Homo sapiens: one gene and its partner. The protein of the gene in region 2 interacts with the protein of the main gene of each other region in a pairwise test. Each region holds a gene or a part of one and is shown on either strand. Other genes may lie near its edges.

Evidence for each region. The genes of interacting proteins can lie anywhere in the genome.
Region 1: the proteins of CACHD1 (region 2) and ZMIZ1 interact in a two-hybrid assay, tested with the Homo sapiens proteins (one large-scale study listed by IntAct).

The regions. Positions count from the first base shown.
Region 1 is NC_000010.11:79,067,788-79,071,765, forward strand, and holds the start of ZMIZ1 (zinc finger MIZ domain-containing protein 1), read left to right. Parts: upstream 1-1,178; 5' UTR 1,179-1,483; intron 1,484-3,978. UniProt on the Homo sapiens protein: Acts as a transcriptional coactivator. Increases ligand-dependent transcriptional activity of AR and promotes AR sumoylation. The stimulation of AR activity is dependent upon sumoylation.
Region 2 is NC_000001.11:64,690,129-64,693,553, forward strand, and holds the end of CACHD1 (VWFA and cache domain-containing protein 1 isoform 1 precursor), read left to right. Parts: intron 1-1,194; coding exon 1,195-1,433; 3' UTR 1,434-2,925; downstream 2,926-3,425. UniProt on the Homo sapiens protein: May regulate voltage-dependent calcium channels.

The sequences.
Region 1 (3,978 bases), on a different chromosome or scaffold from region 2:
CTCTGAGCGTGCCTGCTGTGGCCGTGTAAGCGGGCATCTTTGTGAGGGAAAGTAAGCGAGTGTGTGGGGGCGCGTTTGTGGTTTGGGGGGGAGCGTGTTTGCAATGCTGAGGGAGCGAACGTGTGTGCCGTTCTTGTAGGAGTTTCCGTGAGAGTGGCAGTGGACGTGAGCCAAAGTGGGCGCGTAGTTGGATGCTCTCGGGGGGGGGGGGTGGGTCGGCTAGGGGAACTCCCGCGAGTGGGTGCACCCAACTGCGCCTCGTGAGTACCTTAGCTCTCCGCTATCTCTGGCAGTGCCCAGTCCGGGGCAGAGGGCCAGGCCCCAGCCTAGCAGCTCCCACGCAGCCCGCGCGCACAGCGCCCCGGGCGCTCCGCGCCGGGCCTAGGGGAATCCACGCGTCTCTGGACTGTGCTAGGTGCCGCGGATCAACTGTGGCCACCACACCCCCGCTCCCCCACAGCTGTCGGGGGGCCGCGCTCTAGTCTCCCTCAAAGTCACCCTTGGTGGTGGTGGTCCTCTTCCCACCCCAACCACCAGTCCCCGGGCTGTAGGAACAATTCCAAAGTCAACCCCAGGGGAAGGCTTTGGAGGTCCAGTTACCAACTCGCTTACCCCAATTCGGGTACCTGACAGCGCCCGGGGCCACGAGTGCACTCCAGGCGGGGGCGTGCCAGCGCGGGGCAGGGGCTCTCGGGTGAGCAGTGTGATTTTGGCTTCCTCCCCAAGGTGGTCCCTACCTAGGCTCAGCATTTGTTCCCCTCTCCAAACTTACTGGGGCTGGGGCCTGCAGGGGGGCTGGGGGCTGCAGGGGGCGTCAGGGAGTAGCGGAGGGAGTAGGGCAAGGAGAGAGGTGAGTGGACTGGTGGCGTAGCGGGGAACCAGGAGCCAGGAGAAGAAAAGCTGGGAGAGCGCCGAGACCGAGGAGCGAGGAAGAGAGGAAGAGAAAGGAAAGGAAAGGCGAGGGAGAGAACGAGGAGAGGCGAAAAGGAAAGGGGAAAGAGAGCGCAGAGCGCGAGCCAAGCCGAGCGCCGGCAGCGGCGGCGGCGCGGCGCGGCGCTCCACTCCGGCCTGACTCCGCACCGGCTTTTGCGGGCGGCCGGCGGCGCGGGGCCCTTTGGAAATAGAATAGCCAATGTAATCTGACACTTCAACTTGCTCGGCTCCGGGCGAGTTGATTCACTTACTCACCCCCTAACGCCGAGTTCCTTTTCACTGTCTGTGGACATTAAAAAAGCGAGCGGCGGCGGCGGGCGCCGGGGAGAGCGGGCGGCCGGGCGGCAGGCGGGCGAGCAGCGATCGGGCGGCCGAGCGAGCGAGCAACGCCGGCGCAGCGCGGTGACCCCAGCCCCAGCCGGCGCGGAGCAGGAGCCGGAGCCGAGCGGATCTCGGCGCCCTCGCTGCGCTCCTCCCGGCCCGAGCCTGCCCTACCCGGCGGTGGCGGCGGCGCGTCCTCCAGCGGCGGCAGCGGCGCTCGCAGCGCCCGGTAAGTTTGGGGCCAGAGCCAGGCGCCCGCTGGCTCCGGGGCTACCTCCCGCTCCCCGGGGACTCTCGGGGTGCAAGCGTGGGGATTGGGTGCTGGGGTTTTTCCCTTAAAGTGTCCCCCGGAGCGGGGCGACCGGCCGGCGGCGCGGGCTCCGCTCCGCTCTCCTTGGCGGCCGGGGGCCGAGGCCCGGCGGCCGGCGAGCTCCCGGCTGCGCGGAGCCGGCTTGGGCTGCGCGTGGGGGCCGGGTTTGTCAGGGTGTGCGGGGCGTAAGTGTGGTCGTGCGCGCGCGGACCCGGTGCCCGCCTCCTGCCGGCGCGCCTCCAGCCCTCGCTCCCTACACCCGGGGGCCGGGCAGGACCGGGAATCGGAGGAGGGAGGGAAGGACCGCCTCGGTCTCCTTCGCCTCCTCTGGGGAGATGCGAAGTTGTGCGCCTGTGTGTGTACAGGAACCGCTGGGGAAAGCGCTGGATTTCAGGATGGCAAGGGGTGGTGGTGTTAACTTGTGCGTCTGAATTTCCAGGGAAAACATACACTTTTGTAAATGGGAGGTGGGGGCGCGGTTAAGTTGTTTGTGTGGGAATTGCCCGGGGAAAGCTGGCGCGCGGTACAAACGAGAAACGCGGAGGTGTGTGTGCAGGGTTTTCTCCCAGGGCTTCGCAAGCCAGAGGGGCGCTCAGGCCAGTGCCTGGACGGGGCTGCCCCGGCCAGGAGGGGAGCCCAGGGGGAAGATGTGCGTGTGTGTGCGCGCGCGCGTTGCAAATACGAAAGTAATTTCCCCGTGTTCTTTCTTCCTCTCCGTCTCCGGCGGCGGTGGCCCCGGGGGAGTGGGAGGCCAGCCGGGGCGGAGGTTGGGGGGCCGGGGCTGGAGCCGGGGTCGGGGGGGGGAGGCGGGTTCTGGAAGCTTGCTTCACATTCCTGGCGTCTGGGCTGGGGAAAAAACAGTGGGGAGCGCGGCCTCGGCGTCTAGGGCGCGGGCAGCGGGCGCGCGTCGCCCCCTCGCTGGGGACATCTGTCCAGGAAGCCGGCCGGGCGGGGATAGGGCGCGGTGCGGAGGGCAGGCTCCCCGCCCTGGAGCGGTGGGGGCGCGGGCGAGGGGCGGCCGCCTTCCCGGCCATTGTGCGCCAGCAGATTTTCACGGGAGACTGCCCCGGAGCCGCCGGAGAAGGCCGGGAGCCGGCCTCAGCCCCGGGTTTAAAAGACACTCCAGGAATGTAAACAACCCGGGCGGGAGGGCGGGCGGACGGGAGCGCGCCAGGGCAGCCGGTCCGGGCCCCCCACCCCTCCCCGGGGACAGCCGGTCGGCACTGCCGCCCAGCCCTACCCCTCTACCTGCAGCAAACTTTTTCCTTCTCTGCCTTCCCTTCCCACCTCGTCCCTCCAGCAGGTCACAGAGCGAGGGCCGCTCCCAGGTGGGCCAAGGGTGCTTGGTACCCTTGCCTGACCGGGGAGGCCTGACGGCCGGGTCCCTGCTTCGGTGCCCGGAGCCCCGGCTGCGCCTGCCCGGGAGCCGTCAGCTTCCTGGGTAGGCAGTGCCCGAGTAACTGGGGCTTTGAGCCTGCCCGCCTGCCTCCCTCCCTCCCTCCCTCCCGCTGCTCCTTCCCCCGCGCGCTCTCCCCCTTCTCCTCTCCCCTGACTGCTTTTCCAATGCCCTGACATGAGGGAGGAAGATTTAACTTGGCAGCCCAAACAAATGTTCTCTCAGAGGTCCTCCAAGAAGCTGGCGGCTGGGCTGGCGGGGTGAGGGCACGGCTCGGCCAGCCTTTCCCTCCTCTCTGCTCTGCCACGGACATTTGGAGCCCTCTGGGTGGACAGCCCAGGGCATGGGAGAGTAGGGCCCAGCCCCAAAGATTTAAAAGGGCAGTGGGCGGCCGCCTGTGGAAGCCCCTGGCTCCGCGCCGGGTGCAGAGCCGCTCCGAGCTGCCTCCTGGTGCCAAGGGTTTTCTGAAGGATTTTCTTGAGCAACAGTTTGTCTCCCTGCTGCAACCTGGGAACCGGGCCTGGTAGACCAGAGGGTTAACCAGTGCCGACTCCTCCTCCCTGGTGGGTGTGAGGACAGGCTGGTTACACAGGGCAGGGCAGGAGGCCAGAGGCTGTTCCCAGAGGTGCCTGGGTTTGCTTATTACTGTTTTTGAAGGTACAGATAAAGAGGCAGGCGCCGGGGCTGGAGAGCCGGGCAGCTTGGCGCTGGTGAATTCCAGCCTGCGTTCGCTGGCGCTTGTACGGTCCCGGGAGTGTGAAGCTGCTGTTGAGCTATCGGGGAAGTTGAGATGAGAGAGCAAGCTCTTTCTTAGCCTTCTCAGCCCCGGCTGCTTTGTGAGGGGGTCCAGAGTGGGGGAAATTCCTGGCCCCTCACTTGCTGGCTCCTGGCCCCAGTGCAGGGGCCGGGTGGGTTTGTGAATACCCCAAGCCTTGGGCTGACCTTTCCCTCTTCAAGTCGAGGATGTTGAAACATCAGCATCAAACAAAAGACACATTGAAAGCCCTATCTGCTACAG
Region 2 (3,425 bases):
AGGCTTTCATCTTTATATGTCTTCCAGTGCCCAACACAGTGACTTGTATATTATAGGTACGCAGTAAATATTTGTTAAGTTGGACTGACAGCTAAATAATTCTATCATTTGAGTAATGTTTCATTGAGGACAGAATTTTTGCACAGAGCATACAATTTCAACCACCAATGACTCCTGCTTGGCTGCATGCAAGAACATCAATTTTGCAGCCATGAATGTGACTAGCATTACCCACGGGTAAGTGCTGATTGACGCTAACTGTAGATGCAATGGAAATATTAATGAGCTGTTGCTTCTTAAAATGTTTAAAGGAGATTTTTGCAATATTTAAAAACATGCCAGGAATCTCAGAATGGAATCCTTTGATCAGCAAGGGCATTTGCCTTTGAAACATGTATTACTTAGAATACCAAAAGAAATTAAATTTAAATGGGGTGGGGGGCAGCTAACACAGAGAATAGCTGATTGCACAGCTAGTTGCCCTGGGTATATGTGGAGTTAGTGTTTCATTAGGCACTAGAACTTTGGGCAAATTCCTTAACCTCTCTGATCATCATTTCCCTGAATTGTAAAATGTATATTAAAATATATCACCATTGGTGTGCAAGAATTGCCTGACACAAGTGCCTGCTACCAAGCAAGCACGCAGGTGATGGTGATGGTTCTTTTTGTTCTATTGTGGCGTCACATTCAGGCATTCAGGCGGAAGCCCAGATTTCCGCACCAGCCCCAGTTGATCTGAATCCTGTTCAGATCTTCTTCTTGAAGCTGTCCATTTTTTGGATTTCTTTAATAAAAAAGATTATCTTTATCATAGGTAAAAGTGTAGAAAGATAGGTCCCCAGTGGTGGCTCGCCATGGATGATGGGATGTAGTGTGATTTTCATTTTTGTGTTGCTGGTTTGGGGATTTGGGATAAGGGTTCTTGTTTATTTTTTTTTTCTCCTCTGTACTTTCTCAGCTGTCTGAAGTGGTTATGTATTTATTGTGTCATTGTTTTTTAAGGGAAAAAAAGAGTTATCACTAAATCTCTTTAAAAATAAATTACTTTAGCATCTGCTGACAGTCTGCCAGTGTTTGCACCTATGTATTGCAAAGACAGGAATACCTCCCAGTGCCCTAGAAATTGTAGGTGAAATCTTCTGTCTGCGTCTTGAAGCTCTCAGCTGTGTGTTTGTTTTGTTCTTTTTCTAGGTTACAGCACCATGAGCCCACAGGAGGACAGTGAAAATCCTCCATGCAACAATGACCCCTTGTCAGCCGGGGTCGATGTGGGAAACCATGATGAGGACTTAGACCTGGATACCCCCCCTCAGACTGCTGCCCTACTAAGTCACAAGTTCCACCACTACCGGTCACACCACCCTACACTTCATCATAGCCACCACTTACAGGCGGCCGTCACGGTACACACTGTCGATGCAGAATGCTAACAATCTCCTCACCTCCACGCCAAGATGAGATCTGGGAGCTACAGAATGTTCTGGAAAGAAAAAGAACCGGCTTAAAACCCACAGCAAGAGACCTCCCTTGTGTTTGTGCTTTGTGCAGAGTTGTTTGAGTCATTTCCTGCCTGTCGACATGGTTAAAAACGAGAGAAACAACAACACAGTCACATTTGTGAAGATGTGAGGCTGGTTCTGAAATGGAGGGGAAATAAGCCTGATGAACAGACCTGCCATAACACTAATGGAAGGTAACAGAAGGCGAACCTCCAAACACAGAGACGGAACCTGCAAGTGAAGCTGAGCCAGAGGAATGTTCCAAAGAGCCAGAAGCATTCAGCTCTCCTTAACTGGAAGAGAGAAAAATCTGCTCACCCAGAGACTGGAATGTGGCACATGCAGATACAAATGTGTGCATTGAAGATTTCGCTTTGTTTCTTAGCGGTACCTGGATACCACAGTTGCTGTATGGAACTCATGTTATGCTCTAAACGATGCATCTCAGAATTTCTAAGTAAAGGATTATTTTTCTACTATTTATTGAACTTTCAAACATTCTCAAACTTTGGGGAAAAGGAAAGGAAACACAGGAGAAGTTTTCAGCAGTTGCCCCGAGCTGTTTTGTGTGTAATGAAGTGGTTCTTTGATTAAGGAGCTCTATTTCTTATTTAACTGATATCCCACTGCCCCACTCCACAAAATAGGAAAATGAAGAAATCTTTCTCTCTGACTTGTTTACATCATTTCACGGAAACACATCTTTGTTTGTAATGCAGTATTCTTTCTCTGTGTTTGACAGAGATGGGGAGGGGCAGAGGAATTTAAGAGGTTTTAAAAGAAATGTTATGTTTCTTATGACTTGTTTCCACTCCTCGTACAATGCTATTCTTAGGTTTCTACGAAACCTAATGTTAGAACCGCATCCTTTCAGCTAAGGGAGGGTTGGATTTATTTTCCTTGTTTTAGAGACTACAAATTTTTAAATATCCCATTTTGACTGAGAATATTGACATATAAGGGAAGAAGTTTTCTAAATTGTGAAAGTCTGGTTCTTAATTAAAGAATTTTTTTTTTAATATCACGGTTAAAAGCTGCTGCCAGTTAGCCAAGACATTATCCACCAAATTGCTTTGTGATTTATACAGGGATTAATCAAATCTGGCTACTATAACATGGGGCATTGTAACTTTAAAGTAGTGTTTTAATTACAGTGATGTATTTTAGACTCACATTTTGTGATTCAAATATGTTATAAAGGCATTCTTGCACCATGGTAAAGAATGTGTGTGGTAAATCTCCGTTTATATGTAGTTGGAAAAAATTCACTGAATAATGTTTTAATGATAGGGTATTATGATACAATGTAAAAAACAATTGGTTCTTCAGCAGTACAGAAAGTAAACTATATATGTGCTATCAGGAAACCCCTTCATACTGTGTATAAAATTGCAATCTAGTGAAATAAACCGTATGCAATGGACCATTTTAGTGGCTACAGTGATTTGTTAATGTACCACTCCTTGTGCCTCAAGGCAAGTTACATTCATTTTGTAACCTAGCCAGGTCAGTTGCCAAACTGAAAATAGACCTCCTTTCAATGCTACAGTCAACTTCTAGGGCTTCTTGACCATCTAGATCAAATATGCAAACAACTTAACAATATAATGGGATAAAAATGTATAGAACATAGCTATCCCTTCCTGAGCATCTATATCCATGTCACTAATAATAAATGGTTCTTCTCTAACTGCTAGAAGGATTAAATGAGTTTCCTGCCTTCCCAGAAAATTAAACTTCTTCATGGGATACTAGTTTGTTTCCTAAGGTTGAGAAACTCTGTGTTAGGAAATTGATTGAGGAGGGAGAAGTGCAGTGGAAACTTGGTGCTTTCAAGAAAAGAATCACAAAACTTAGAGCTTAAAAATGAAATAGGTACCCCTATAGAAACACAATAACAGAATACATTTTGTATCTTTTGGG